4 linked regions of the Homo sapiens genome follow. The protein of the gene in region 1 interacts with the protein of each later gene in a biochemical or structural test. Each region holds a gene or a part of one and is shown on either strand. Other genes may lie near its edges.

The links.
Region 2: the proteins of MAGI1 (region 1) and KCNMA1 form a complex in vitro, tested with the Homo sapiens proteins (one study listed by BioGRID).
Region 3: the proteins of MAGI1 (region 1) and CRHR1 form a complex in vitro, tested with the Homo sapiens proteins (2 studies listed by BioGRID and IntAct, with this or other methods).
Region 4: the proteins of MAGI1 (region 1) and CYSLTR2 interact in a test that uses a peptide from one of them, tested with the Homo sapiens proteins (2 studies listed by IntAct, with this or other methods).

Annotation. Positions count from the first base shown.
Region 1 is NC_000003.12:66,035,403-66,043,433, reverse strand, and holds the start of MAGI1 (membrane-associated guanylate kinase, WW and PDZ domain-containing protein 1), read left to right. Parts: upstream 1-4,515; 5' UTR 4,516-5,125; coding exon 5,126-5,438; intron 5,439-8,031. UniProt on the Homo sapiens protein: Plays a role in coupling actin fibers to cell junctions in endothelial cells, via its interaction with AMOTL2 and CDH5. May regulate acid-induced ASIC3 currents by modulating its expression at the cell surface.
Region 2 is NC_000010.11:77,627,455-77,635,172, forward strand, and holds part of KCNMA1 (Calcium-activated potassium channel subunit alpha-1), read right to left. Parts: exon of another isoform or gene 6,656-7,718; intron 1-6,655. UniProt on the Homo sapiens protein: Potassium channel activated by both membrane depolarization or increase in cytosolic Ca(2+) that mediates export of K(+). It is also activated by the concentration of cytosolic Mg(2+).
Region 3 is NC_000017.11:45,821,940-45,829,657, forward strand, and holds part of CRHR1 (corticotropin-releasing factor receptor 1 isoform 2 precursor), read left to right. Parts: intron 1-7,275; coding exon 7,276-7,382; intron 7,383-7,621; coding exon of another isoform or gene 7,622-7,708; intron 7,709-7,718. Other genes in the region: LINC02210-CRHR1 (CRHR1-IT1-CRHR1 protein), read left to right, coding at 7,276-7,382.
Region 4 is NC_000013.11:48,705,713-48,712,228, forward strand, and holds the end of CYSLTR2 (cysteinyl leukotriene receptor 2), read left to right. Parts: intron 1-1,104; 5' UTR 1,105-1,105; coding exon 1,106-2,146; 3' UTR 2,147-5,514; downstream 5,515-6,516. UniProt on the Homo sapiens protein: Receptor for cysteinyl leukotrienes. The response is mediated via a G-protein that activates a phosphatidylinositol-calcium second messenger system.

The sequences.
Region 1 (8,031 bases):
AAAAAATAACCAATTTATATGTCCTCCTTTGCCCCTGCAACTGACCAACTTATTTCCCATCCTCATATTTTCAGAAAAAGGAGGAAAATTACCACTTTAAACTGCAATGACACATTTCTTTAATCACAACTGGAAAACTTTGGAAAGAAATATATTTCGGAGAAGGGAAAGAAATGCACATTTCATATTCGTTTTTTTTTCTTCCCCCTAGTAGAACTAGCTATATACAAATAAGATCTTAATTTGTCTAGTGTTTATTCTGTTATAGTTTATTTCTCAGCTGAATCTACCCTCTGTATTAGGAGTTCATTGTTGAAATGCTTATGCAATAATATAAGACTGTTTGGCATGTCACCTGTACTGCAGCCTAAACACTGTAGAAATGTTTGCAAATTAATTCTCTTTGCATTCCTGAATTATTTGAATCTTCAAAGCCCATAGATGGAGAACAGGAGATTGAGTTCTGGAGTGAAACACTGTATCCTTTAGCTTAAAGTGAAGAGACAGAAAGGAGGGGGACTTAATTACTGTGTATACACTATGTAGCAGATTCAAGAGTCCAGAGCATGCTGTTACCCAAATATGCTAAATGGCCACATCCTATCCTCTCAGACTACAGTGTTCTGAGCATGGGTTTTGGGTCATGCCTCCGGGTTCACTTCCTGGTTTTGTTACTTGTAAGCTCTGGGGCAAGTTTCTTCACTTTCTTAGCTTCATTTTCCTCAGTTATAAAATCAAGGTCATTCCTGATAGTTCCTACCTTACACAACTGTGGTGATTGCATAAAATAACTCACATCAGCTGGGCGCGATGGCTCACGCCTGTAATCCCAACACTTTGGGAGGCCGAGGTAGGTGGATCACCTGAGGTCAGGAGTTTGAGACCAGCCTGGCCAACATGGCAAAACCCTGTCTCTACTAAAAAAGCAAAAATTAGCTGGGCATGGTGGTGTACTCCTGCAATCCCAGCTACTTGGGAGGTTGAGGCGTGAGAATCACTTAAACCCAGGAGGCTGAGGTTGCAGTGTGCCGAGACGGCACCACTGCACTCCAGCCTGGATGACAGAGTGAGAGTTTGTCTCAAAACAAACAAACAAACAAACAAACAAAAACCAAACAAAAAAACCCCCAACTCACATCACTACGCTGACATATACAGTAAGCTTGAAAGTTAGGTATTTTATAGCATTATTTCTCCCAACAGAATGTATTGCCAAATTCATAGCTAAAGTGAGACAAGTCAGAATACTAGGATCTTAGATCTATTCAGGAAAAATCTACTTCACAATGACATAACTATAAGCTCTTTTCATTGAAAGTAATGGCAAAACCTGCAATTACTCTTGCACCAACCTAATATAAATACCCCTGTTTTGGCAACCAAATCTAAACTGGCTTTGGATCAAAGGTCACATATTACACAATTTCATGTCATACTTCATCCATTTATTCAACAATTTCATGTCACACTTCATCAATTCACTCAACAACTGTGTATGGTGCACACTCCACACAAGGCATGGTTCATGGTTTTTGGTATTGAGGTTTCAAAGGTTGGATAGGAGAGAGATGATCTCTGCCTTGAACTTCTCCAGTCTGGGACACAGGAACTAGACCAGGTGAAACACCAGCCGGGAAGATGCAGAGGGAGCATCCTGGAAACTGGCAGCCTTGGCTACTTTGAAGGTTCAAATTATTTTTCCTTTTCCTGAATTAGAATAATGTCTATTCTCTCCATATTGCCCTCTGTGCCCACAGGTACTACTCCTTCTTTTGGGGCTTTTCCACATCTAAAACCTGACGTATGCTAAATTCCAAGTTCTTTCCTTTCTCAGCTGCTGTGGTGACACCTGGAATCCTGGCAAGAGGGGGATGTTGTTGCATTGGGAGGAATCACAAAACGCCTGGTCTTGTCCAGCCCTTGGACTCCCCCAGGCAGAGGTGAGAGTTGAGTGGAGAGGTAGGGGACTCCTAATTCAAGGTTGGTTGTGGGTATTCTTAGCAAACAATTACACTTTACTAGAATATGAAGTGGCAAAGTGGGGAAACACACAAGGCTAAGCTTACTAAGCTTACTAATGATTTGCAGGGGAATCTGTGACTCCCCACTAACATGGAAAGTAAAAATGTACATTTTTGTGGAAAGAGTCATTTGACAAATATTTTAGCATTTGCTAGTACGAGGCACCATTCTAGGAACTGGGAATAATACATCAGTAAACCAAACTGTCAAAGTGTCCTGACCTCCTTGAGTTTTTATTTTACACAGAGATGTGGATCACAGGTTTATTTGACAAAAAGGTCTGGGACCCAAACAATGCTTTGGAATCAAGATACTAAACCTATGGTGCTCAGCGTTGTGTACCAACAACACATAAGGGGAACCTTAAAAGTTCAAATGACTTAGCCCTTCCTTGACATTCTGATTGGCTGGATCTGTGCTCGGGTTTGATAATTTATGTTTTGAAGTGCTGTTCATATTGACCTAGATTGCTTCTGAAAAAAAGCTGGAGACAAAGTTCCTCTCACCAAGCAAAGCCATGGAAAATTGGTCACCTCCTTTTTTCAGAAACACAACAATGCAATGGGATTTTCAGTTCTGGATATCCCAAGAGAGAAGCATCAACATCCCTCCTTACTTTTATTAGCTTAGAATAGCACCCTACAATGCTTTAAAAGGATGTTTAAACGTATGCCTAAACCAGGTATGGTGGCTCACATCTATAACCCCAGCACTTTGGGAAGCTGAGTCAGGAGGTTGGCTTGAGCCCAGGAGTTTGAGACCAGCCTGGGCAATCAACATAGGGAGACCCCCCCATGTCTACAAAAAATCAAAAAAATAAAACTAGCTGGGCATGGTGGCATGTGCCTATAATTCCAGATACTCAGGAGGCTGAGGTGGTAGGATTGCTTGAGTCCAGAAGTTCGAGGTTACAATCAGCTAGTCGAGCTACTGCACTCCAGCTTGGGGACAAAGCAAGACCACGTTTCTAAAAACACCACCACCACCATCAAAAAACAAACACACAAAGTATGCCCATATTTTCTAAGTTCTAGAAAGGAGAGGATAAATTATCATACTTACTAACTTGAATCCCCAAATGATTTCCCAATTTTCTTCCCAAATAGTAATACTACTATTAAGAATATAATGAGTTTTTATTATTTGCCACTTTATAAGTGTTTTCCCACGTAATACTTCCAAGAACCCTGTGAGGTCTTGTTCTACTTATTTGATCAGCGAGAAACGGAGGCGCGGAGGTCACCAAGCTTGCTCAAGGTCACACAAGGGTGGACCCCTGAGCCTACCTCTCAACCTCGACTGCTGTGTCCATCCTTTCTTCATCGTTTCAACGTACCCCCCTCATTTCTTGGAATCTCTCCTGTGACCAAAGATGAACAAAATTATACATCACTAAAGAGGAAAACAAACTGCTGGGGAGACTACTCAGCAGCCTGATTTGAGGAGTATTTGGGAAGGGCAGCCTTCCTGTGGTATGGGAGTCTTTCTGTCCGCCACCTCGCCGGGACAGAAGTCACTCCATCCGCACCCCCGGGCGACCTCCGGAGGCCGCAGCTACCCCCGGGCTGCGAATTCCGAGTTCTCTCACGCCCCCGCGGGCGCCAGGACGCAGGGCATGTCCGCGCCCGGCGGGGATCCTTATCTCCTGGCCCCGGAGTAGGTCCGCAGGCTTCTCGGCCCTGCCAGGAACTTGAGGCCGGGGCAGATGATTGACTGGGTCCAGCAGTCTCTGCTGGCAGGGCAGTTGAAAAGCTAGAGGGATCTCTTTTTTGGTTGAATACCTGAACCCACACTAGCACCATGGCTTCTCTCTCTTGCCTGTAGTTTCCCGTGTCCTAAAAAGTTGGTCCCAAAGTTTAAGGATGCGGGTGTGTGTAAGAGCGCGTGTGACCCGCACAGGGATCCCAGTTGGGGAACCGGAGGATCCCACCGTCCCCCTCCCCCGGGTCGCAGAGACCCTGGCAGACCCCGCGCCAGGACCCGAACCCGCAAGCGCAGGGCAGGCAGGGAGGCGGCGAGCGCCCCGGGGCGGGTCTCGGGGGTTTCAGTGGGACCTGCGGCAAGGGGGGCGGCGAACCAGCCGGGCTGGGTGACCGACAGCCTGGCCAGCCACTGGCCGAGGGCGGTTAGGAGGCTTAGGGCCGGCGCGAGTGCGTGCGCGTGTGCGTGAGTGTGAGCGCCAGGGTGAGTGTGGCAGCCTCCCCAACCCCCACCTGTTTGAAATGGTTTTCAAATGCCAAAGCCAGATTGCCCGGGTTTCAAAAGTTGCAAACAGTTGGAGTAAAACACGTGTGCGGCCCTCCAGCCCCAAAGGAATCCGCGGAGTCCAGGGCACTGAAAGAAAAGGAGAGAGGATAGGGGTTCAGGAAGGGTTGGGGGGGAGTTGCCTTCTCCCGGCAGGTCGGTTTTAGGACCCATCGGGAAGCACGTTGGAATCTCTCCCTTCGGGGAGGAGGGGAGGGGTGGGCCGGCCGGCTGGCGGCCGCGGGGCGCATGCGCGCGCGTCTCCTGTCGCCGGCCGCTGCGCTCCGCGGCGCGGAATAGAATGAACTGTAACAAAACAAGCCGAGCCTTTGTATCTGCTTAAAGGGGCCGCGAGCACTTACCTCCCGCCCTGCTCCCCGCCGCCCCGCCACCGCGTCTTCAGGGCTCCCGGCAACTGGCTGGAAGGGCTTCCCTCACCCTCAGTAACAGCCTGCCAGCGAGGAGAGGCGAGCCGGGCGGGAGGCAAAGAGGAGGCACCGCATTTGTAAAAGGCAAGAGAGAAAGGAAGGAAGGAAAAAAAAATAACCCGAGCGGCGCAGAGTGGACTCTGGTCCGGGAGAGCACGGGCGGGCGCCGGAACGTGGACCCAGAGGCACCGGAATGCAAACAAAGCTCGCGGGCGCCTGTGCGGGGCTCGCGGGGAAGCCCAGAAAGTTTGTTTTATGATGGCTTGAGTGCGCGAGCGTGTGCAGGGGAGCGAGGCTGCCAAGTTTCTCTCTCCTGTTTTGTGATTTGGGGAGAGATGTTTCTCCCATGAACAAGCGGAGGCTTGGGGGCTCGTGCTGTGGGGGGCACCTGTCTCTCGTTTTATTTTTTTGGAGGAGGGGTGTAACTCATCATGTCCAAAGTGATCCAGAAGAAGAACCACTGGACTAGCAGGGTTCACGAATGCACCGTGAAGCGGGGACCCCAGGGCGAGCTGGGGGTGACGGTGCTGGGAGGCGCGGAGCACGGGGAGTTTCCGTACGTCGGAGCGGTGGCGGCGGTCGAGGCAGCGGGGCTTCCCGGCGGCGGCGAGGGCCCGAGGCTGGGCGAAGGGGAGCTGCTTCTGGAGGTGCAGGGGGTCCGGGTGTCCGGCTTGCCCCGCTATGACGTGCTGGGGGTCATCGACAGCTGCAAGGAGGCCGTCACCTTCAAGGCCGTCAGACAAGGTAAGGCAGGGCGCGCCTTTGGGGGGCGCCCCGAGAAAAGGAGGGTGGTCTGTGGGCTGCCCCTTATTCTCGATTTCCTGCTTCCCTCCTCGGAGCGCAGTGAAGAGAAGTTGAGGCCGTGCGCCCTGTGGTGGCGGTGAAATACACAAAGTTGTTGCGAGGTTGAGGGTTGTTTGCCCACCTGCGTTTCGAAGAGGGGGCTGGGTTTGCGCAAGGTAGCGGGGGGACGTTTCTCAGGCCTGGCTGGCCAACCTGTTATCTCCGCCACTAAGTGCAGCGCAGTCTCGCCTGCACCCGAGAGAGAGTTGGGGAACTGAGTCAGGGGCATGGTGGACGCTGTCCTGGCTCCTTGGGGGAGGGATGCAGCTGGCGTTCTTTGGCCACGAGTCAGTTTCCATACCTGCTGAGTGGGTATACAGAAAGAGAGGGTCTGTAGTTTATTGGACCTCCCCCATCAGAAAATCTGCTTCACCCCGCGACCCCTCCAGGTGAGCTAGGACACCACTGCCTGGCGGTTCCTGAGCCCGCCGCCAGAAGAGCCTGCATTCACCCCTCAGCCGGATGACGCATGTGTCTCCACCGTGTGGCTCAGCCATACACTTGGGAGGGGGAGAGGGGGAAGGGGTGCTTGCTTTTAGCTCGAATCGGGTCCAAGTTTACCCTCCCACCACCACCATCATCGTCATTATTGATGATGAAAATGAAGCTACTATTCATTGTTGGTTTACTACATGCCCGGCTCTGTGTAAAATACTTTACTTGCACTATCTCACTCCGATTCACAACAGTTCTAAGAACGAGTTGTTCTTATTTATATACCCCAAATTAGAGATAAGGAAACTGGGATTGATACTGGTTAAGTGACTTGCTCAAGGTCACACAGTTGCCAAAAGCGAGGGTTTGAGCCCTTGCTGCAGAGCCTTAAGTATGGAGGAGGAAGGAGTGGGGGGATGACCCTACCGCACTGAAGGGGCTGATTCCTGAGGAGGGAGTGGAAGCAAATTCCTCTCTCAGAAATCTGTAGAGGCCTTTTAAAAGATGCATTTGCTGGCTGCTGGTGATGTAGGTCCCTTACATCTCACTTTGGTACAGACAAGGGGCTGTCCTCATGTCAACCCAATGGAGACCAGCTGAGGCCCTTAAAGGGCTCCCTTGTGCAAGCAAGTGCCATGACGCAGGTTCTCCCCAGTGAAAGCACCGAAGGAAGTCGTGAAGTTGAACATGGTGAAAAGTTCCCATGTGTTTCCATAAGGACAGGCAGCAGCTGGAGGAATGTGTCAAAGGAAGGGCTGGGCCTAGCTGGTCCTCTCTTGGAAACAGGCGTGCTCCAGATGAAATGGAGGAGGGGGCGGCCGACTCGCCTGGCCTTTTAGCAGCTTTGGGAGCTGAGGAGCTGACACTTAGCTATGGAAAGCTCCTTGTATTTATGACTTCATTCTCCACTGGGATACCTCCTCCAAGAAGCCCTCCAGAATCCTGCTAGGATGCACAAATTCTTCCTCCTTTGGGCTCCTTTAATGTCTACTTTGTGGCTTTTTTACTTACTCTGAACTCTGAGTTAGGTCCTCATTTCCATACAAGGTAGTGAGCTCATTAAAGGGAGAGATTGTGCCTCATTCCTGGCATACCTCTCCAGGTTTTGCTTGAGGTTCAAAACCTTTCCTGGCCTGACAATGCGTCTTCCTCACACTGGCTTTCCTGTGGGTATTACATAAGCTAACACGTGGAAAGTGCACCCAACAGTGCCTGTACATAGTAAGTGCTCCATAAAGATTAGCTATTTATGTTTGAATTGATTTTAGCAGCTATTTATTTCTGAAACTAGTTTTTAGTGTCAGGAACCTGGATAATTATGACTTGATAGGGCTGTAGAGAAAATACTGTGTGAAGGCATAGGATGGGAGCAGCTGCAGGTCTCAGTTCAGGACCATTTTGGAGAAAGGGTGGAGGAAGGACAGGCAAGGGTACCTGCCCAACTAGGGGGATGCCTCGCAGTGTCTAACGGGTCCTGAATAGGGGCTGGCTTGCAGTGTTTGCAGTGTGCAAGATGCTGCATGGGCTTGTGTCTCTTCCTTCCACTAGTTGCCAAATTTCTGGGAGGCGATGTCCCAGGGCTCTCTCATCATGGAGTTTAGGAAGGCTTGGTGAGATAATCAAGTGGGTTTGGAAACAGACACCTCTGAGTTGAAAGGAAACTGTAGTGTCTCCAGGTGTTAGCTCTCTTCACCCCTTGTGCACAGATTGTTCACAGCAGGGGCGAGTGTGTGGGTATGTTTCTGTGTGTGTGTGTATATGTATGTATGGATGGATGTACGTGAATCTACTTGTAATGGGATAGAAATATGATACTGATTGGGAAACCTGAATGGCCTGGAATTCATTGCAGTCTGAAAGTGACTATTTCATGTAATAATTACACAGGCACAGTTGGATCTTCTGACGTCTTCATTACCAGTAATGATGGCCCTAGAAACCATTTCACCAGTTTTCTGCTCCCTCTTCCATGTTGAGAATATGATTTAGATTGTATGACAGAATTGCTCTTAATGTGTCTTCATTACTGTGCCTTTTAAAGTCATATCAAGCAGGCTCA
Region 2 (7,718 bases), on another chromosome or scaffold:
AGAAACAACCAGAATGGGTCGTTTTCTGAACTCTGGGCAAAGGGGCAAAGGGAAACCACACTGTCTCAGGAGGACGAAGAACCCAGGGAAGCCATCAGGGAGAAAAATAAAGTGGCCTTCATGGAGGAAACACAAGTTAAGGTTAAGGTCATTCTACGTCTCAACACTGCGGACATGGAAACACCACCCAGCTCTGTCCCTTCCTGAACTGGATTTAGAATTTGAAATCTACCATCCACCAAGGCTTGTTCTGCATGTCCCAGACACAGACTAGAAGCAAACAAGGACTAGTGCAAACAGAAAGATCTTTCCAAGTTCATCGTAAGGTGGGTTTGTCCCCAGTGGAATAGTGGCCTCAGGAGATCATAAACACACTGGTAGGGTGGGCTTCCAGCACTGGGGAGGAATCGCACAGGGCCTGAGGCCCCAAAGCTTCCTTCCACCACTGTGAATTTATAGTTCCATGCGCTTCTGCACTTGTTAAATCAGGTCGCTATTTGTTGTCTACTAATCTACAAACCTGAAGCCCCCAGCCAGCAGAGGCCACTCTCGATCCCACCCCCCAGCCCCAGTTCACTCCCAAAGATGAAGACAGAGAGGACTGTCCAGTCTCTAAAAGGGAAGAAGGAGCAAGAACAAGACATGGAACCAGAAAATAAAATAAATACTCATCTTATACTCCCAACTTGAAATGCACATACAGGCAGCCCAACAGCCTGTAGATAATTTGGTTTACAATGATATGCAAAGATGCAGACCCATCGTGGCTGAATAGTTTCGTACAGTTAGAAGTGACCCTGGAAAGAATATTACTGACAGTCTTGCCTTAAAAACTCTTTTGCAAAAGACATCATGGTCCCAGACTTCAGCAGTTAACAGATGGAAATTAACTTCACTTCAAGTCAAAAACCTAAAATCTCGCCGGGCGCGGTGGCTCATGCCTGTAATCCCAGCACTTTGGGAGGCCAAGGCGGGTGGATCATTTGAGGTCAGGAGTTCAAGACCAGCCTGACTGACATGGTGAAATCCCGTCTCCATTAAAAATACAAAAATTAGCCAGGCATGGGGCATGAGAACCTGGAATGCCAGGTACTCAGGAGGCACTAGAACCCTGGAGGGAGAGGTTACAGTGAGCCGAGATCATGCCACTGCACTCCAGCCTGCCAGCCTGGGCAACACAGCAAGACGGTATCTCAAAAAAAAAAAAAAATCTAAAATCCTATTTTTCCTTTTTAAAAAAACACCCCTTCCCCAAGTAAAAGTCAACTCTGATAATGGGGAGATCTACATAATGTTTACCTTAATTACTTCTTCCCCAAATTGAAGTATTCCTCCCTATTGTGCTAGAAACCAAAATTAAACAGCACCAACTTTCCACAGAAACCCTCAGGAATGACAGCCACTAAGGAAAAAAGGATGTAAAAGAAAGGATGGAGCAAGAGGAGGAGGGGGAGAAGGCTGGAATTCAGGCTTTCCTGTGAATTCGCTTTGAAATGCCTAGAGGCCACTGGATCTGAGTCCCCAAGAAAATCTGGTAGAGAGGCCAGTGAACCAGCATAAAGAATAGAAAATAAAGGAGATGTGTTAAATAATTTTGATTTTGGCCACGTGAAGAAGTATTAGTCATACAGGTAACAAGATCTTACAGGGAGATGATTCCAAGGCTCGGCTTGACAACGTTAAGTGTATATCCATTCTGGGCCTGGAGTGCCAATTACATTTCCAAATTGGCAATTAGACACAATGTCCCAAGACAATCACCAAATAATGCCAAAAACAAAGCAAGTTCCATCTTAAAGCAGCCATTCTTTTGAAACTGCCCTTCCCTCCCGTGCCTGACTCATCCACCTCACAAACAACTGCCCATTATGAACTAAATCCTTGTTAGCTACTGATCAAGAGAAACCAGGTGGCATGAATAATTAAAATCCACGAATGATTCAAGCACCATGTTGTCAACAAACCAAGCCCATCTCTTTCACCAGGAGTTTCTCCATAGCATCTAACAAATTACCCAAAAAAGCAGGAAAATATATTTGCCACCCCCAACCAATGCATTCTCGTTCAGCCCCCAGCTAACTACTGGAAAGAGCCTTCCAACATCTACGTGTGTTTACATTTGCATGACTCAGTTCCTGCCCTCAAGGAGTTTGCAGGCAATTCAGAGATCAGATGTTCATATTCCATGAGAAGATAACTGTTTTTTCCTCTGCTCAGCCTGTCAAGTACTAATAAAAGCCCTAACAAGCAGGGAGTCAGAACTGGGTCTTAATTATTTTTCCCCCAGCACCTAGCTTGGTTTCTGGCACATCGTATACACTTAATATGCAACAAAAGCAAAAACAACAACAATAATTATAACCAGAAGACTTCTTTGAGGGCCTACTGTGTGCAGGCCGCCACGATGCTAGGTCCTTCTTCATTCTGCCTGCTGCAGACACTCATGGTGCTCCCCTCTGATGATGAAACAACATAAAAAGCACATCTCATGGAAAAAGTCCCTGACAGTGTGAGCTGTGAAAAACCCTGGTATGGTGAGAAAAGGAGCTACTTTCACTTTCATCTTCTGGAATTCTTAAGAAGTGCATTGGAGGGCCACACAGCACGGTGCCACGCGTGTCCCCCAGTCACTCCACGGGCAGCTCTTCAGCCAATTCTTTGAGGTTGAACCCTCCATTTGGGAAGGCCCACCCAGGCCCCTACAGAAAATCAGGCTGGCAGTCTTAATGCCCACTGACTTCAAACACTCCAGAGGGAGTGGTCCCCAGCCAGCCTGGGGCATCACCGCAGTGCAGCCCTGGTGACACCACCAGCCTTTAATTTTGCAAGGAGGTAGTTTGGCTGGGTTGCCCTCCTGGACTTCGGGAAGTCACACCCTTTGCAGAATGACCAACTGGCACGAGGAAGAGCCCACACATTGGTGGGTAACACACAGACCACACCCTGTAAACACTGCTCTGGCCACCACAACCCAACCCTAAATCCACAACGCTGATGGGTTCCTTAGGAGCAGGCACCTGGACCATCAGTTTTCGCAAATAAGAGCCCAGCCCGAACCACAGCTACCCTGGTCTGAAAGGAGTTTTCTCCACCCAACGATCTGGCAGAGCAAACCTTCTGCTTCTCATCCCTTCCCCCTTCAAGAGCTGGGAATTTCCACATTTAAAAATAAGCCTGTCTTCAGGGATGGACTGCACGGAGGCTGAGGGATGGACCAGATCCTTGATACTCAAAGTGTGGTCTGCACAGCATCAGTATAGCCTGTGTCTCGCCAGACCAGCATAATCTCAGGTCCCACACTGGATCTTCTGAATCACAGCCTGCATTTTAACAGCTCTCGGTGATTCCTGAGCATATTAAAGTTTGACTAAGCCAGGCACAGTGGCTCACACCACTGTGGGAGCACTTTGGGAGACCAAGATGGGAAGATCACTTGAACCCAGGAGTTCAAGACAAGCCTGGGCAACATAGGGAGACCCCATCTCTGTAAAAAATTTAAAACCTAGCCAGGTGTGGTGGCACACACCCATAAGTCTTGGCTACTTGGGGAGCTGAGGCAAGAGGATCACTTGAGCCTGGGAGGTTGAAGCTGCAGTGAGCAGTGATCATGCCACTGTACTCCAGCCTGGGCAACAGAGTGAGACCCTGTCCCAAAAAAAAAAAAAAAAAAAAAAAGTTTGAGAAGCCCAGGCCTAGAGACACTCTCCAGTCCTTGGAGATAAAGATGTGATATTCCCACTGAACATTCCCCAGGTTTTCTGTCCAAAGTGCTAGGACACCCTTGCCTCCGAGGGTCCCTGGGTTTCCTTTTCTAGGTGCCTAATGCGTGGGGTTCCACCCACCCAAGAAGCAGTTCTAAAAGAGACATCCTTGGTCTGCTCCCTGACTGTGCACAGAAAGGCATGGCCCTGTCTGATCCCCAGGGATGTCTCCAAGGGACCCAGTGTTCCCCACACGGCCCAGGGCCTGGCATCACAGCACAAACAGCCCTTTCACTGGAACCACAAAGGCGACCTTCCAGGGGATCTGCAGCTTGGCAAGGTGGTATTGGCTGCTGTGATTCACAGATTAGCATGGTCACTGCCAGTGTGAGCCGGGACGCCCACTTTGGGAAGGAGGTCCTGGCATTGCAATCGAATGCCAATGTAACTGTTTCTGCACCAGGCCTCTCATGCCCTGATGAGAGAGAGAGAAAGAGAGAGACAGCCCCAAAGCAAGCACTTACTCCTGGCTATCAGCCACCAATGAATGTCCCCATCCAGGGAACAAAATAGCTGTGAGGCAAAGAGAAGGTCCATTTGGACTTACCATTGGAATGCTTTATCCCCCAGGCCAAACAGCAGGGGGCAGGCAGCTCTTCTTTTCCTCCTGTTGTATGTTTGGTCAAGTTTCCTGGGCACCTAGAAGCAGGGCTAGCCCAAGGCTCCCAAAGGGAGGCCATAGGTTCTCAGTGTCCTCCTAGGAAATGCTATAAAATGGGGTTGGTGAAAAAAACCACCCCATGAGGCTGTGCTCTATCACAGACCTCAATTTGCAGGTGAGGAAACTGAGGCACAAAGGCATGACGTCTTTGCCCAGGATCACAGGCTGAACCTTGGGCACTGCACAGCACCCCTGACACTGAAGCAAGACTGCTCACAGGTAGCACATTTGAGGGCATTTTAACCACTTTCTCTACCAGCAGGATGCCGCCAAGCCTGTGATGTGGCCCTCCAAAGGGGAAGCTCAGCCACGCCATGCCTGCTGATTTTTTTTCACAAGGTAATTTAAAAGGCAGGTGTGCCACAGAACACACTTGGGGAAACCTGGCCTAGGGGGTGTCTTGGAAAAGCTGGTCTGGGTAGACAGTGAGTGTCCTGGCCAAGAGACCGTGACATCACTTGGGAGACAGGTCTATGAGTTCTGGACTTGGGATAACAGGGATGGAATTTGTCCCTCCTCAAGGGTACAATGCTGGACAACCATACCTGCCCACCAAATGCCACAGTGTTTCCCTTCTGCCAGCCCAGCAGCTCCTGGTCCCCCATACTGTCGATGTTCGTCCACTGATACCCCACCATCAAAACTGTAACCATCCTGCCAGGACCCCATCCGTGAAGCCTACCTCTGCTGCCCTGCCCTAACTTTCCAGCCTTGCAACAGCCAAGAGCCATAAGCCCATGTCTCAGTCTGACTCTAAATGGTTTTTTGATCTATGACAGTATACTTCAGGATCTAAAGCCTCCTTTTGGCTCAAAAACTTTATTTGTTATAGTCTGCGCCCTTCAGGGGCTATAAGTTCAATGAATCAAAGGGAAAATAAACTCAGCACTTCATGAAGCTATGATAGTTACCACTTACAAGAGGCCTGCTAAGTGTCTGGCATTTGCAGGGTGCTATGTGCCCATTATTCCTGCTCCCTATAAGAACCCTACAAAGTAAGCATCAGTATGCTCTTGGTATAGGTGATGTAACCAAAGCTCAACATGGTTGGCAGTCAAAGATGCCCTGCTAATAAATGTGAGATCCATGATTTGAACTTGGGTTTGCCTGATTGCAGAGTCTTGTACTAAAGTGTGCATTTCCATAAAGAGGGCCAGGGGCTGGACGCCGTGCCTCACGCCTGTAATCCCAGCACTTTGGGAGGCCAAGGTGGGCGAATCACAAGGTCAGGAGATCAAGACAATCCTGGCCAATGTGGTGAAACCCCGTCTCTACTTAAAATACAAAAATTAGCCAGGTGTGGCAGCGTGCGCCTGTAGTCCCAGCTACTTGGGAGGCTGAGGCAGGAGAATTGCTTGAACCCAGGAGGCGCAGGCTGCAGTGAGCCAAGATCGTGCCGCTGCACTCCAGCCTGGGTGACAGAGCGAGACTCCATCTCAAAAAAAAAAATTAATAAAAGGAGAGAGAGAGAGAGCAAGGAATGAGGAGCACGAGCTCTCTGGACAAGGGCAGGTCAGCTGGAGCTCCCCCGTGACTAGGACCCAAGAACTCCTCCAAGGCCACCCCAAGTGATCTGCTCAAAAAGGAGTATCTCAAGGTCATCTGGTGCAGCCAATCCCCAGGACAGGATGAGATGAGGCACAAGGGCCAATCTGGAATCAAGAGCTCCACGGCACTGAAGCTCCAGCCCTGATTGACTGCGTCAGGCCAGACCCTGGGTAATTACCAAGCTGTAATGGGATCTGATATTTATATTAGTCACGAGCCTGACAGAGAAAACGTGTTGTTTTCTCAGGCACAGCCATGGAGACAACATCTCGATAATTCATTACACGCAGACCATCCTTGATCAAGCCCAAGCTTCTACAAGGCCAACAGCTCAAACTGAGAATGGAAATAACTCTATGCCCAGCCACACTCAGGCCCCTCAACAAACCACAGCTCCAACAGGAAGTTGGCCTCAGTTTCCCCAGTTATTTAAAGAGAAGTAGACCACATGCTGGAAGACGAGCAGAAGATGGAAATAAAGATATGTAACTGTCCCAAGGCTGAATTCCTAAAGGAATTGCTAGGGAACTGCAAAACACATTCTGAGCTAGAAACTTTAACCCTCATTCCTCAACTCCTCCCTCTCTCCTATATCGAATCACAGAGCAGGAAGGGACATTAGAACTCACAGAATTCAATCCCCACATTTTATACACAAGGAAAGATAGACACCAGAGAGGTTAAATAACTTCTTCAAAGTCATGGCTTTATTCAGGCTACCAGAGCAGCTCCCTATTCAATATAGTCTATGACAGGATTGAACTTCACAACGTCACACCCAAGTGAATAGAGAGCTCTGATGAAATCCCACAAGGAAAAAAACAATAATGTGAAAAAGTACAGCAAAGAACACAGTACTGGAATGACTGTGACCAAGTTCCCAACAGGAGGAAATTGTAATGTTTTCTTCTTCACTTTCTGAAAAAGTCCACATGCCACTCTTTTCAAAAGACTAAAGTCATTCACTGTTTGAGATTCAGAGGCCAAAGGTACTAATGAAGAGATGTCCCACGATGCATGTCCACAGTCTTGGGTTCCTTTGATCAAAAAGGTTTGGTGCGATCCCAGAGACCAAACGCTCATGAAATTGGAGCTCCTTGCTGAATTTTATCTCCCACAGAATTTCAGACCTGCTTTCCTCTGGACTCCAGCTCTTGATCAAACCATCTTGGGGCTGAAGGAGGGTGAGGGTGAACCCATCTGAGGGCTGGTAGAATTTTCTGGAAAGGCAGCCTATGTTTTCTTGGGAAATCTAGCACAAAAATTATTATTCTAAGCTTAAGCCAAATACATGCCTGTGTATCGAGTCTTGACAAAACTACCAAATACTTGGAAAGAAAAAAGAAAAAAAGACAAACACACACACACACACACACACACACACACACACAATTGCAATAAAAATACAGACCTCAAGCATAGAAAGAAAAGCTTTTAAAAGGCCTAACTTACCGTTACTGCATATAATGAGCTGGCTACCTATGGCTTAAGTGAGCAAATCTAGGGGCAGGTATCAAGAGATTCTAGGTGTGCTTTAAAATGGACTTACGGTATCAAAAGGAACCTGCACTCATTCTATACTGGCCTCACATCTTCCAAACAAACCACCATCACCTCTCATCCCTGGCAGATTTCTTACAGCAACTCACTTCCAGTTATGTCCACTCAGCAGGTCTTGGGGCTACAAAACATAGCCAAATATTTACGAATTGTTTTTTCTAATCGTTGCCAAAAACCTATTTTCTTGA
Region 3 (7,718 bases), on another chromosome or scaffold:
GAACTCAGAAGGTACAAATGGGAATACAATGTCCCCTCCCACCCCGTCCCCAGCCACTGGATTCCCTCCCAGAGGCAACCATTTTGCCAATTTCACAAGTGTCCTTCCAGAGACATTCTCCGCATACACGAGTAATTTTGTATACGTATTCTTTTTTGTTTTTACCTGAATGTTGCATGTTATACACACTGTCTACACCTTGCTTTTTTCATATAATCATCTATCTTAGAGATGGTTCCATATCAGTACATAAAGAGCATCTTCATTCTTTTTGCATTTGCATAATATCACAAAATGTACCATAACTTATTTAAACCAGTCTTTATTCTCAGTCTTTAGTTATTACAAATGCTGCTGCAATGAATAATCTTTGAAGGGTGATATTTGGCAGAGGCACAAATATATCTATCCTGGAGCTGCTACTGCCCTCGGTCTCTCCCACCCTGTCTCCTTTCCCACCCGACGCTTTCTCCCTTGGTGCTGAGGAAGACGGGGGTCAAAGGGCAGAAGGGGGGACACCCCAGGCTGTCCGAGGGCCAGGGATTCTGATTGTGGAAGAGAGAGACTGACCTAAGCAGTCCCAAGAATCCCGTCGCCTAAAGATCAGAGCTGGAAGGGACCGTGGAGACTCTCCTTCCCATCTTGAGGTTCCCAGACTTGCCTGGTTATAAGAATCGTCCAGAGGCAGATCTCCTGAGGTCAGGAGTTCAAGACCAGCCTGTCCAACATGGTGAAACCCCATCTCTACTAAAAATACAAAATTAGCCGGGTGTGGCGGGATTACACCTGTAATCCCAGCTACACGGGAGGCTGAGGCAGGAGAATCGCTTGAAACCAGGAGGCGGAGGTTGCAGTGAGCCGAGATTGTGCCATTGCACTCCAGCCTGGGCAAAAAGAGCGAAATTCCATTAAAAAAAAAAGTGGGGCCAAGTGCGGTGGCTCACGCCTGTAATCCCAGCACTTTGGGAGGACGAGGCAGGCAGATCACGAGGTCAGGAGATCGAGACCATCCTGGCCAACATGGTGAAACCTCATCTCTGCTAAAAATACAAAAATTAGCCGAGCATGGTGGCGCATCCCTGTAATCGCAGCTACTCAGGAGGCTGAGGCAGGAGAATCACTTGAACCAGGGAGGCGGAGGTTGCAGTGAGCCCAGATCGCGCCACAGCACTCCAGCCTGGCGACAGAGCAAGACTCTGTCTCAAAAAAAAAAAAAAAAATGGAATCTCCCAGAGCACTTGTCCAAATACAGGTCCCAGGGCCACACCCAACACCTAAGAAATCACACTGTCCAAGGAGGACCTGGGAATCTGTGTCTTTCATGAGTGCCCCAGGGGAGCCTTCTGATGGGGCAAAAGTGAGAAACTCTAATCTAGTGCGACCCGTTCACACTACAGATGGGGAGACTGGGGCCCAGAAAAGGGGAATGATTCACACAAGGTCACGTGGCTCTGGGACATTCCCTTTTTTTTTTTTTTTTTTTTTTTGAGACAGAGTCTTCCTCTGTCGCCAGGCTGGAGTGCTGTGGCGCGATGTCGGCTCATTGCAACCTCCACCTCCCTGGTTCAAGTGATTCTCCTGCCTCAGCCTCCTGAGTAGCTGCGATTACAGGAATGCACCACCATGCTGGGCTAATTTTTGTATTTTTGGCAGTTAAGTCAGAGCCCGGAACCCAGGGCTTTGGAGCCCAGGCTCCGGAGCACAGGCTCTGCAGCCCAGGCTCTGCTTTGCCCACTGCCAGGTATCTGGCGTGAAACAAAGTTAACGGAGAAAGAATCACTTTCCTTCACCTGTAGCTCCCACCCCGGCCTGGCAAGCTTTGGTTAGCCCCACCCCTGGCTTCCTGGCCTCAAGTCACTGAGCTAATGCGGGGCTCTGCTGTCTCCTTCCGGAAGCTGCAGCTAGGTCAATGCCTAGCTTAAAAGACTCACGAGTTCTTCCACGGTGCTGCTCTGGCAGGGCGAGGGGCTGCCTGGCATCTCAGATCCCACAGGCCAGACCTTTGGGTGGCACTCAAGGCTGGGGTGGGTTGGTCAGGCTCCCTGATGATCTGATCTGAGCAGGGAAAGCCCTCAGCTTGCTAAGCCCCCACACAGAGAGCCCACCTGGGAAGTCCTGGGATTGGGAGGAGGGCTCCTCCTGGACTGGGGGAAGGAGGTGGGGTTCCAGGTTAGGAGACTTAGTTGGGCCAGAGGAGATGGCCTTGGCCTTGGCTGGTGGGGTGGGAGTGGGCAAGACCGTTCAGGGATGTGAGGAGCCCGTAGCCTGGCACACAGTAGAGGAGGTGGGAGGAAAGGAAACAGGGCTGGTGCTCAGAGGAGCGGGTCAGTGCTGTCAGTGACTCAGGACCACACGCCATTGCAGAGAGGGATGGTGTCCAGGAGGCACAGCTAAGCCATGAGGTCAGGCTGCAGGCCGCACTGTCTGTCCCAGCTTCACGCCCTGCACTCAACCCTCCTGAGGGTCAGCGCGGGGTCTTCGTGGTTCACCTGTCTCTCCTGCTCTATTGCAAGCCCCTTCTTTTCAGTTGGCTGATGGGGACACTCGGCAGCCCCCATTTTCCCCAGCACCCTTCAAAGGCCTAAGGGCAGTAGGTTAGCCACCCTCAGCCTGCCCTGCAACACCCAACCCTGCCAGGACAGGGGTCTCTACCTCTGTCCACCAGCAGGGTTAGGACAAGGAAGAGGATCGGGAGCCCGGTCTCATCAGCCCCCTCTTTGCATTGCAGTGGGAATAGCACGGACCTTAGGGTTTGGGTTTCAACGGGAACCTGCTGCATGACCTTGAGGAGGCAACTTAACCTCACCAAGTTCCCAAAAATGGTGGCCAGGAATTCAGATCTCTGCCTTCTGGGGATGGAAGGGTGGTGTTGGCCTGTCTTGGCCTATGGGAGACGTTCCATTCACCTGCCGCCCCCTGTCTCTCATCTCCCCTGTGAGGTCAGGGGAGGTTGTAGTGTACACCTGGGGGAGTGACCCGCCCCACCCCCCAGCCCATCCGTGCCTGGCTCTGCCATCTCTTTCCTCTGCAGCCCCTGCTGGCCTGGTGCCTAGCACTCTGGGTAATCGATTAGTTTAATTAGTGAAAATGCCATTCCCTTCTGCCAGCCCCCAGCCTCGCCAGACCCCTCCCAGAACTGCAGAGGAAAGTATCCAATTAATTGAGTGGTAGGTTTCTCAGCTCTGGGCCTGGGCTAAGCCCTAATTAAGCTCCAGCGCCCTGGGGTATCGCAGATAATGGATTCGCAGAAGTCTGCCTGTGAAATGGGACTTGCAAGGGCACCTCAAGGCCAGGCACCCCAGGAGATCTGCCCGCAGCCAGCACCACCAGGGGACAGGCCCCCAACTGTTGCATGCATGGCTGGCCGGGGGATGGCACTGAGCCCCCAGCACCACCCCTACACCTGCTGCCTGTATCAGCACCCTCTCCTCCCCCCACCACCTCCCGCTACTACTGTTCACTCCCTTCCCCACCGTCCAGCCTTCCCCCACCCACCCAACACTTGCACACACTCTATCCCCTTTCCCCACGTTCTGCTGCGCACAGGAGCCTGGGCCTCAGGCACAGCCTGGGAGAGCACACCGTGGTGGGACATGAAACGGATTCTGGGGGTCTGGTTTGTGGACCAAGGTTCACTGCTCACCGTGTGGGGAGAGGTGAGTGGTGGTTGGACCAGGGCTTCTGAACTGCAGAGGTGCTTTTTCCTAAAACCAAGCTCCGATTCCATGGGCCTGGCGTAGGGCATACATTCCACTTTCCTCAAGATCTCTGCGTGCTCCTCTGCGTGCTGTTGCTGGGCCAGGGGCCACCCTTTGAGGATCGAGGGGCTGGAGTGAGTGCCCACTGCAGGGTAAGAGGAGTAGCTCTGGAAGCCTCGGTGGAGAGGACGTGCCAGAATGGAGTGGGCACCAGTGGGGAGCTTGGAAGGGAGGTCTCATTGCCACCAACCCAGAGAGGCATCAGGACGGATCTGGCACTGCAGCGCCTGGGACGAGGTGGTGTCCTGCAGAGAGTCCAGTCAGAGTCAGCCGGGCACAAATTGCTTATTCAATTCAGATCACTGAGGGTACAGCGGAGTGGCCTCTGCCAAGTACCACGCTGTGCCACCCTCCTTAGGGCGGGGTGCCTGCTGGTCTTAGGTCTCCAGACTGGATGGAGATGGAGTGCTGGTCAGGGCCCGAGGGGTAGCTGTGCCCATTTGTCCTTCGGACATCCCAGCTGCTTTGCTGTTATCGTGGCCATCGGTCGGGGTGTCACTGGCTGTCCCTGGGGGTGCTGCTGACTCTCCTCTCCAGGTATCACTGGCCACCTCTCAGGGTGTTCCTGGGTGCCTCTTAAGGCCTTGCTGTCTCTCTAAATAATGCTGGCCAGAACTCTGGTTGTTATTGGAAATGTCACAGTGTCACTGGCTTCTGTCTGGGTGTCGCAGGATGTATTTGTCTCAGGGTATCAGCAGCCATCCCTCAGGCTGTCTCTCCAGCTGTCTTCTCAGGTTGCATGATGCTGATGTGGCCGATGAGAGACAGGGCTTGAACCCGGCCCAGGCCCGACTGCTCAGGGAGGCACACTGAGACTTTGTCCCCCGGGAATGGTTTGGCCTGATTCTCCCTCAGGCTCTTGGAGGAAAGCCCTCTTGGGCGCTATTGTCCCAGCAGGAGGTCCCCCGAGGCTCCTGGGCCCAAAGTGGCGTGAGACCACCCCAGAGAGTGCCTCTGCTTTCAATTCCTGCTTGTCCCCCAAGAAATGTCGCAGGGGGCCGGACACGGTGGCTCACGCCTGTAATCCCAGCACTTTGGGAGGCCGAGACAGGTGGATTGCCTGAGCTCAGGAGTTCGAGACCAGCCTGGGCAACATGGCAAAACCCCATCTCTACCAAAAAATACAAAATATTAGCTGGGCATGGTGGTGCATGCCTGTGATCCCAGCTACTCGGGAGGCTGAGGCAGGAGAATCACTTGAACCCAGGAAGCAGAGGCTGCAGTGAGCTGAGATCCTGCCACTGCACCACTCCAGACTGGGCGACAGAGTGAGACTCCATCCCTCCCCCACCCAAAAAAAGAAATGTCCCTGGGAAACAGGGAAAAGAGGGAGCTTAAAGCCAGGCAGACCCAGGTTCCAGATACCGGCTGCGTGGCGTGGCCAATTATTCAGTCTCTTCTACGGAAAGAACTGGGATGAGAGGAGCAGTCTCCAAGGGCAGCTGTGGGAAAGAAAAGCAGTAGTGTCTGCAGAGCTCCTGGCACAGTGCTCAGCATACAGCAGGTGCTTAACAGATAACTCCTCCCCACTCCAACCCCAAGGGCCCGGTACGGCCTGACTCGGGAGTGAGGCAGGGGCCCTGGAAGGCAGCACTGAAGGGTCTCCCTGCACACTGCGCTCCTCCCGCCCAGCCTGGGCCTGTGAACAAGGCCGGGGTGTTGTGCCATGCTCGGCTCCACACATGTTGTCATTACCCAGGGGCTTCTCAGCATGGATTTGTGGAAAATTTAATAAAAGGATATTAAATACCAGCTCCAGACAGCCTGTGATGTGTGCATATCTTCCAGAGCCTCCGGATTGGGGCATCTGCCGCCAGGCGCTCAGAGACCCTCCCCACTTGCACGGGTGATAGGTACCCTCTCCTCACTCCCCTCTCTGTCTCTGTCTCTCCTGCCTTCATTTACACCTCCCTGGATCCCAGTCCTTTGGAGGCTGGAGTTGCTAATGTAATTACCTGCCATGTTCCAGAAAGCCTCTGCCTGGAAACCAGCTCCAAGAACAGAGCTTCTGTAGCAGCCTCTGGAGAGGTTCCCCAATGAGGGTGCTCCTTCAGAAGGGCCTTGGTGGCCGGGCGGAACTGGGCATAGGGTCTTGGCTTCTCCTGGGATGCCTGGTGGATAGGGCTGGACTTGATCTCTGGTTTCAAGTGGGTTCTGTAATTCCAACAGGAAGGCCTATGGAGTAGCTCCTTGGTGGCCAGTAGCTCCTTGGTGGCTCTGAGAAGATGATGAGGGCCGTTGTGAGCTCAGTGCTTCTCAGCACTTGCATGTCACCCACCTTTGTGCCTCATGATCATTCAGCCCCACCCTAGAGCCTAGAAACGGGGAGGAAGGGAGGTGCTGCCAGGGACCCCTCCCTTCTCAAAGTCACCTGCTTTTCAACACCCGTCTTTCCTTCCTTCACTCACACACTGCTTTGGAGTTTGACTGCGTGTCAAGCTCTTGGTTTCTAGGCCCTGCTTCTTGGGACCTATAAAAGTGTGGATGGGGGCTGTGCTCTTGGGCAGGAGTCTGCAGAGAGCTGGGCATGGGGACTGACCAGTCCCCTATTATGGGCTGGGGACCTGTTTGCAGCCTTCGTATCTTGCCAATCTACATGTGCAGGCAAGAGGTGGTTTTGGAGTTGCGCGACCTCCAGCGCGTCAGCATAACCTCTGTGCTGTTTTCCTACAAAATAAAGCCCAGATGCCTTTCCGGCTCCCCCCACGGGGTTGCCCTGATGGTTTAAGACGATAACAGATATGAAAATCCTCTGTAAACAGGAAGGCTTCACCACTCTTGGAACTCAAGATTGCTGTAAAGAGGAGGGCAGTGACCTCCATCAGTATATTAAATTCATTAAGAAATAAACCCGGGGAATGTGTTACAGTCCTGGGAGAGGATCCTGCTCACTCTGCACAGATCCCCTTGGGCCAGGGATGGGGAAGGCCCCGGAAAGTGAGTTATGGAGCCTAAGGAGACTTTTCTGTGGTTTCTGCTGATTCTGTGGATGCCAGAGCCCAGCAGCTGCCCGGCCCCTCCTTGCTCACAGGAGCAGGCGGCATTGCAGCAGGAGGGATTTAGGGGTGGCTGAGAAGGTGGTGACTCAGTTCAGAAATGGGTGGAGAAGAGAAATCCCGGGAGTTTGGTGTCTCTGCAGCTGAGAGGTCCACCTGGTGTTCTGACTGGGTGGCAGCATGGGTAGATGCGAGTGTGAGGGCGCACCTGTGAGCCGGCCACATGTGCTTGTGCATGCAGGGGCGGGGGGTCCATGTGGAGTGGGGAATCCCACGTGATGTGGAGATTCAGTTCGACACAACACGGAGCAGTGAACACAGCATGGGATTCAGGGACAAGCAGAGCCTCAAACTGGACGGCGTTGCTCTGCAGCGAGGCCTGACCCTCAGCAGATGCTCAGGAAGGGGGAGTGGCCCTTGAGATCATGACCCGCTCCATCCCAGCCACCCCTAGGCGATGTCCTCACAGAGCAGCTCCCATCCAGCAGAAGGCTCACCTCTGCCCCTCTCTCCTGCTCCAGAAAAAAAGCAAGGTGCACTACCATGTCGCAGTCATCATCAACTACCTGGGCCACTGTATCTCCCTGGTGGCCCTCCTGGTGGCCTTTGTCCTCTTTCTGCGGCTCAGGTGAGAAGACCCCAGCACTGCCTCCTCCTGTCCCCAGGACCTAGAGCAGAAGCAGGGTGGAGAAGTGAGAGGAGCAGCTCTAGGTTGGGGTGGGGGTTGCTGGGAGAGGGTGGCAGGGGCTGGCTTATCTGAGAGTCTCAGGTCTCTGGGAACCTCTGGCAGAGCCGCTCTGCCCTCTCCCCAGTAGCTGCTGGAATGGTGGGGAGGGACAAAACTTGTCTTATGTCACCCATACCCAGGCCAGGCTGCACCCATTGGGGTGACCAGGCAGATGGAGCCCTGGAGGTGGGGGCTCCATGGAGTGGTGCCCCATTTCAGGTTCGAAGGTACCTGGGC
Region 4 (6,516 bases), on another chromosome or scaffold:
TATGTCTCTTTGCCTTCCCTCATTTATAATATAACTATCTCAATAATTCCTCTACATCCATTTAAAACCACATCAGGCAGCATTAATGTTTTTGTTTCAAAACATTAAATGTAACTTAGACTCTAAAAGGGAAGGACAGCCTATTGTATTTACACATATTTTGGCTTACCATGTTCTTTCTTATTTTCTAATATTCTAAGTTTCCTTCTTTTATAAATTCCTTTCTGTTTAGAGAACTTCCTTTAGTCATTCTTTGTTTGTTTGTTTTTTGTTTTGTTTTGTTGTTGTTTTTTTTTTTTTTGAGATGGAGTTTCGCTCTTGTTGCCCCAGCTGGAGTGCAATGGCATGATCTCGGCTCATTGCAACTTCTGCCTCCCAGGTTCAGGCAATTCTCCTGCCTCAGCCTCCCGGGTAGCAGAGGTGACAGGTGCCTGCCACTGGGCCCGCTAATTTTTGTATTTTTAGTAGAGACGGAGTTTCACCATGTTGGCCAGACTGGTCTTGAACTCCTGACCTCAGGTGATCTGCCAGCCTCAGCTTCCCAAACTGCTGGGATTACGGGCGTGAGCCACCAAACCCAGCCTAGTCATTCTTTTAAGATAGGTCTGCTGGCAGCAAAGTCTTAGTTTTCCGTCTGAAAAAGTCTTGATTTTTCTCTTTGTACTTGAAGGATATTTTTGCTGGACATAGAATACTAGTTTGGCAGGTCTTTTCTTTCAGCATTTGAGAAATGTGCCATTTCTTTCTGTCCTCCATAGTTTCTGATGAGAAATCTGCTATTCAGTAGTTTTAGGCTGCAATATCATAGTAAGGTATTCATGTCAACAGGGTCAGTAGGTCACAAGTTCTCTAAGTTTGAAGCGTCAGCTTCAACCAAACAAATTAATGGCTATTCTACATTCAAAAATCAGGAAATTTAAATTTATTATGAAATGTAATGCAGCATGTAGTAAAGACTTAACCAGTGTTTTAAAACTCAACTTTCAAAGAAAAGATAGTATTGCTCCCTGTTTCATTAAAACCTAGAGAGATGTAATCAGTAAGCAAGAAGGAAAAAGGGAAATTCACAAAGTAACTTTTTGTGTCTGTTTCTTTTTAACCCAGCATGGAGAGAAAATTTATGTCCTTGCAACCATCCATCTCCGTATCAGAAATGGAACCAAATGGCACCTTCAGCAATAACAACAGCAGGAACTGCACAATTGAAAACTTCAAGAGAGAATTTTTCCCAATTGTATATCTGATAATATTTTTCTGGGGAGTCTTGGGAAATGGGTTGTCCATATATGTTTTCCTGCAGCCTTATAAGAAGTCCACATCTGTGAACGTTTTCATGCTAAATCTGGCCATTTCAGATCTCCTGTTCATAAGCACGCTTCCCTTCAGGGCTGACTATTATCTTAGAGGCTCCAATTGGATATTTGGAGACCTGGCCTGCAGGATTATGTCTTATTCCTTGTATGTCAACATGTACAGCAGTATTTATTTCCTGACCGTGCTGAGTGTTGTGCGTTTCCTGGCAATGGTTCACCCCTTTCGGCTTCTGCATGTCACCAGCATCAGGAGTGCCTGGATCCTCTGTGGGATCATATGGATCCTTATCATGGCTTCCTCAATAATGCTCCTGGACAGTGGCTCTGAGCAGAACGGCAGTGTCACATCATGCTTAGAGCTGAATCTCTATAAAATTGCTAAGCTGCAGACCATGAACTATATTGCCTTGGTGGTGGGCTGCCTGCTGCCATTTTTCACACTCAGCATCTGTTATCTGCTGATCATTCGGGTTCTGTTAAAAGTGGAGGTCCCAGAATCGGGGCTGCGGGTTTCTCACAGGAAGGCACTGACCACCATCATCATCACCTTGATCATCTTCTTCTTGTGTTTCCTGCCCTATCACACACTGAGGACCGTCCACTTGACGACATGGAAAGTGGGTTTATGCAAAGACAGACTGCATAAAGCTTTGGTTATCACACTGGCCTTGGCAGCAGCCAATGCCTGCTTCAATCCTCTGCTCTATTACTTTGCTGGGGAGAATTTTAAGGACAGACTAAAGTCTGCACTCAGAAAAGGCCATCCACAGAAGGCAAAGACAAAGTGTGTTTTCCCTGTTAGTGTGTGGTTGAGAAAGGAAACAAGAGTATAAGGAGCTCTTAGATGAGACCTGTTCTTGTATCCTTGTGTCCATCTTCATTCACTCATAGTCTCCAAATGACTTTGTATTTACATCACTCCCAACAAATGTTGATTCTTAATATTTAGTTGACCATTACTTTTGTTAATAAGACCTACTTCAAAAATTTTATTCAGTGTATTTTCAGTTGTTGAGTCTTAATGAGGGATACAGGAGGAAAAATCCCTACTAGAGTCCTGTGGGCTGAAATATCAGACTGGGAAAAAATGCAAAGCACATTGGATCCTACTTTTCTTCAGATATTGAACCAGATCTCTGGCCCATCAGGCTTTCTAAATTCTTCAAAAGAGCCACAACTTCCCCAGCTTCTCCAGCTCCCCTGTCCTCTTCAATCCCTTGAGATATAGCCAACTAACGACGCTACTGGAAGCCCCAGAGCAGAAAAGAAGCACATCCTAAGATTCAGGGAAAGACTAACTGTGAAAAGGAAGGCTGTCCTATAACAAAGCAGCATCAAGTCCCAAGTAAGGACAGTGAGAGAAAAGGGGGAGAAGGATTGGAGCAAAAGAGAACTGGCAATAAGTAGGGGAAGGAAGAATTTCATTTTGCATTGGGAGAGAGGTTCTAACACACTGAAGGCAACCCTATTTCTACTGTTTCTCTCTTGCCAGGGTATTAGGAAGGACAGGAAAAGTAGGAGGAGGATCTGGGGCATTGCCCTAGGAAATGAAAGAATTGTGTATAGAATGGAAGGGGGATCATCAAGGACATGTATCTCAAATTTTCTTTGAGATGCAGGTTAGTTGACCTTGCTGCAGTTCTCCTTCCCATTAATTCATTGGGATGGAAGCCAAAAATAAAAGAGGTGCCTCTGAGGATTAGGGTTGAGCACTCAAGGGAAAGATGGAGTAGAGGGCAAATAGCAAAAGTTGTTGCACTCCTGAAATTCTATTAACATTTCCGCAGAAGATGAGTAGGGAGATGCTGCCTTCCCTTTTGAGATAGTGTAGAAAAACACTAGATAGTGTGAGAGGTTCCTTTCTGTCCACTGAAACAAGGCTAAGGATACTACCAACTACTATCACCATGACCATTGTACTGACAACAATTGAATGCAGTCTCCCTGCAGGGCAGATTATGCCAGGCACTTTACATTTGTTGATCCCATTTGACATTCACACCAAAGCTCTGAGTTCCATTTTACAGCTGAAGAAATTGAAGCTTAGAGAAATTAAGAAGCTTGTTTAAGTTTACACAGCTAGTAAGAGTTTTAAAAATCTCTGTGCAGAAGTGTTGGCTGGGTGCTCTCCCCACCACTACCCTTGTAAACTTCCAGGAAGATTGGTTGAAAGTCTGAATAAAAGCTGTCCTTTCCTACCAATTTCCTCCCCCTCCTCACTCTCACAAGAAAACCAAAAGTTTCTCTTCAGAGTTGTTGACTCATAGTACAGTAAAGGGTGGAGGTGATATGGCATTCTGAAAGTAGGGAGGGACTAAGTCAGTCATCATACTAAACAAAAATCCCAGTACCCTTTCCTTATTTAGCTACCAGAATGATGACAGACAGACTCAAACCCTGTCAAGACAGGACCCTGGAGGATCCTCCTATGGGGAAACTGCATAATCTGAAAAAAAGGCTGACAGATACAAATAGTTGAGGATCCTTCAACACAAAAGCTGCGTGTCTGCCCTATTACTCACCTGACGATGAAGCCCACAATGCAACAAATCCCTTCCACTCACAGCATTTGGTCAACCTGTCAGAGCCTCATTCTTAATTATGAAAAGTAGTCAATGAACACAATACATTTGAGGGAAAGGCCGTAACATGAAAGGCACCAACAAATAAATGTGAGAGTAGATAGAGACCTTTTGAGTATAAAAGATCCTCCAAAATAAGAGATTAAACCAAGATAGAGGAAAACACAGTAGCTGGGAAACAAGGAATCCAACGCAGGAGAAAGTGAAGAGAATTCCCAGGATGTTGGTGTGTAGCAGGCTTAGAAAGCAAGTCATTCATGTTGGAGCAGGACTCTTAAAGGACTCTAGGAGAGATGTCTCCCAGAAAAAGAAGAAATTAATTGATTCATACACATTGAGAGGGATTTAGATTTCTCTTGCAGAGATTGAGATAAACTAGTCGTAAATACATAGAAAAATAAGCAAGTAAAAACGCAATACAGTTTTTAAGTGCTAGAGGAAAAGAAACTTTTGTATTAGAGAGGAAATATAACCACAGTACACTACATGGCTCAGCTGTGAATAATATTTACATAGAGGATAATGTGAATATAATAGTCTCCCATTATCTGTGGTTTTGCTTTCTGCAGTTCAGTTACAGCCAGCCAGTCTGAAAATATTAAATGGAAAATTCCAGAAATAATTCTTAAGTTTTAAAACATGTGCTGTTTTGAGTAGCATGTTGAAATCTCGCACTATCACCCTCCACCCATGTTCTGGGCAGGGCAAAGTGGGATGGTGTGAGATTTCTCCAGTGGATCCACAATGTATATGCTACCCACCCATGAGTCACTTAGTCATCATCCAGTTGCTCAGATCAACTGTTGTGGTATAACAGTGCTTGTGTTAAAGTCACTCTTATTTTACTTACTAATGTCCCCAAAGCATAAGAGTAGTGATGCTGGCAAATAAGATACACCAAAGAGAAGCTGTAAAGTGCTTCCTCTAACAGAAAATGTGAAAGTTCTTGACTTAATAAGGAAAGAAAAAAAACACATGCTGAAGTTGCTAAGATCTACAGTAAGAACAAATCCATCTGTAAAATTGTGAAGAAGGCAAAAGAAATTTGTGCTAGTTTTGCTGTTGCACCACAAGCTGCAAAAATTATTTATTACACCCCACGGTGTGTGATAAACACTTAGTTAAGATGAAAAGGTATTAAATTTGTGGGTGGAAGACATGAACAGAAATGTGTTCCAATTGACAGCAATCGGGTTTGGTACTATTTGGGTTTGGTGCTATTCGTATTCAGGGTCTTGGAATGCAACTCCCACAGATAAGGGGGTGCTGCTGGAGTGAAATACTGTGATATAACCTTTTTTTCAGGAAATGAAGGGAGAAGATGTGTACGTGTGTGGGAGAGGTATAAGAGACCTAGGTTGCCATATTCTATCACAGAAAATGCATAATAACTAAATCTGGAAAATGATGAATAGCTGTACAACCATATTATTTAGCAATAGGAGGTAAATACAGGTAGAAGCAGAAGAAAGAATGGGCAGGGGTTACCTCTATGGAGAAGCTGGGGTGGGAGGATAGGGTGGGGACTTATTTTACGAACTGTGTAATTGCCTAACTTGTGAATATGTATTTCTGAAGTAAAATAAAAATTAAGTTAAAATTAAATTTTAAAATTCAAACTAATTCTGAGTTGTTTTTTAAAACAAAAACAAAAAAAGACAAGAAAGCCCATCAGAAATGGAAACTGAACATTGACAGAAGAAAGGAAAGCAGGAAAGGACCAGAGTTGTATTTCAGTTCTTGAGAGAAGCCCATCTAGTCCTGCCATGGGAGGCAAGTCCTTTCTTGGGGTGAGGAAAGTCACTTTCTGGGGTTAGAGAGATTTTGATATGTTACTTGGGATATTTTTAGTTGCAAGTAACAGAAAACCCTACCCCAAGTGGCTTACATAATAAAGGGATTTGATTATCTCATATAACTGAAATATACCGAGGGAAGTTGGACTTCAGGCCTTGTTCAACCAGGACATCTGTGGGCTTTCCTCCCCAGATGTTGGCTCTGCCACATGGGTGAATCCTCTCATGGAAACAAGCTGACTGCAAGCAGCCTGAGACTACACACTTCCTTATTTGTTTCTAAAGCAAACTAATGAAGAATGGATTACTCTGAATGAGGATGATGACAGTACACACCTAAAGTAGTTGAGGTGAAACCCGCTGAAATCTCATCTGGGAAAGGGGTGAAATGGGGCTTGCAGAGGCCACATATGTACTGCAAATGAGGTGGAGAGAGAGCTGCCAACCAGCTAAGCATCCATGCTGGGTGTGGCATGTAACTGAGCAGGCAGCCGGGCAGCTTTGGAGGGTGGGGGGAAATGCAGGCTCTAGGAAGAAGGGCAAAAGTTAAATTTTGAATTTCGGTTGTGAAGTCGTAGGGATTTTCAATTGTCAATGAGAAACCTTAACAACTTTCCAAGGGCAAAATGGCCCAAATAAAGCTGGGAGTAACAGAGCAACCAAGGTCCTTAGGATGAGCATAAGAGAGGGGTTGTGAATTATTAATGTCTATGGTGTGTGTATGTGAGAGACAGACAGAGACAGAGATGTAATGGCTTACTTTTCCTTTTTCCAGCCAGAGTGAAGCCTCCTATTTGTTGAAATATGTCCTTGGAGAGGAAACAA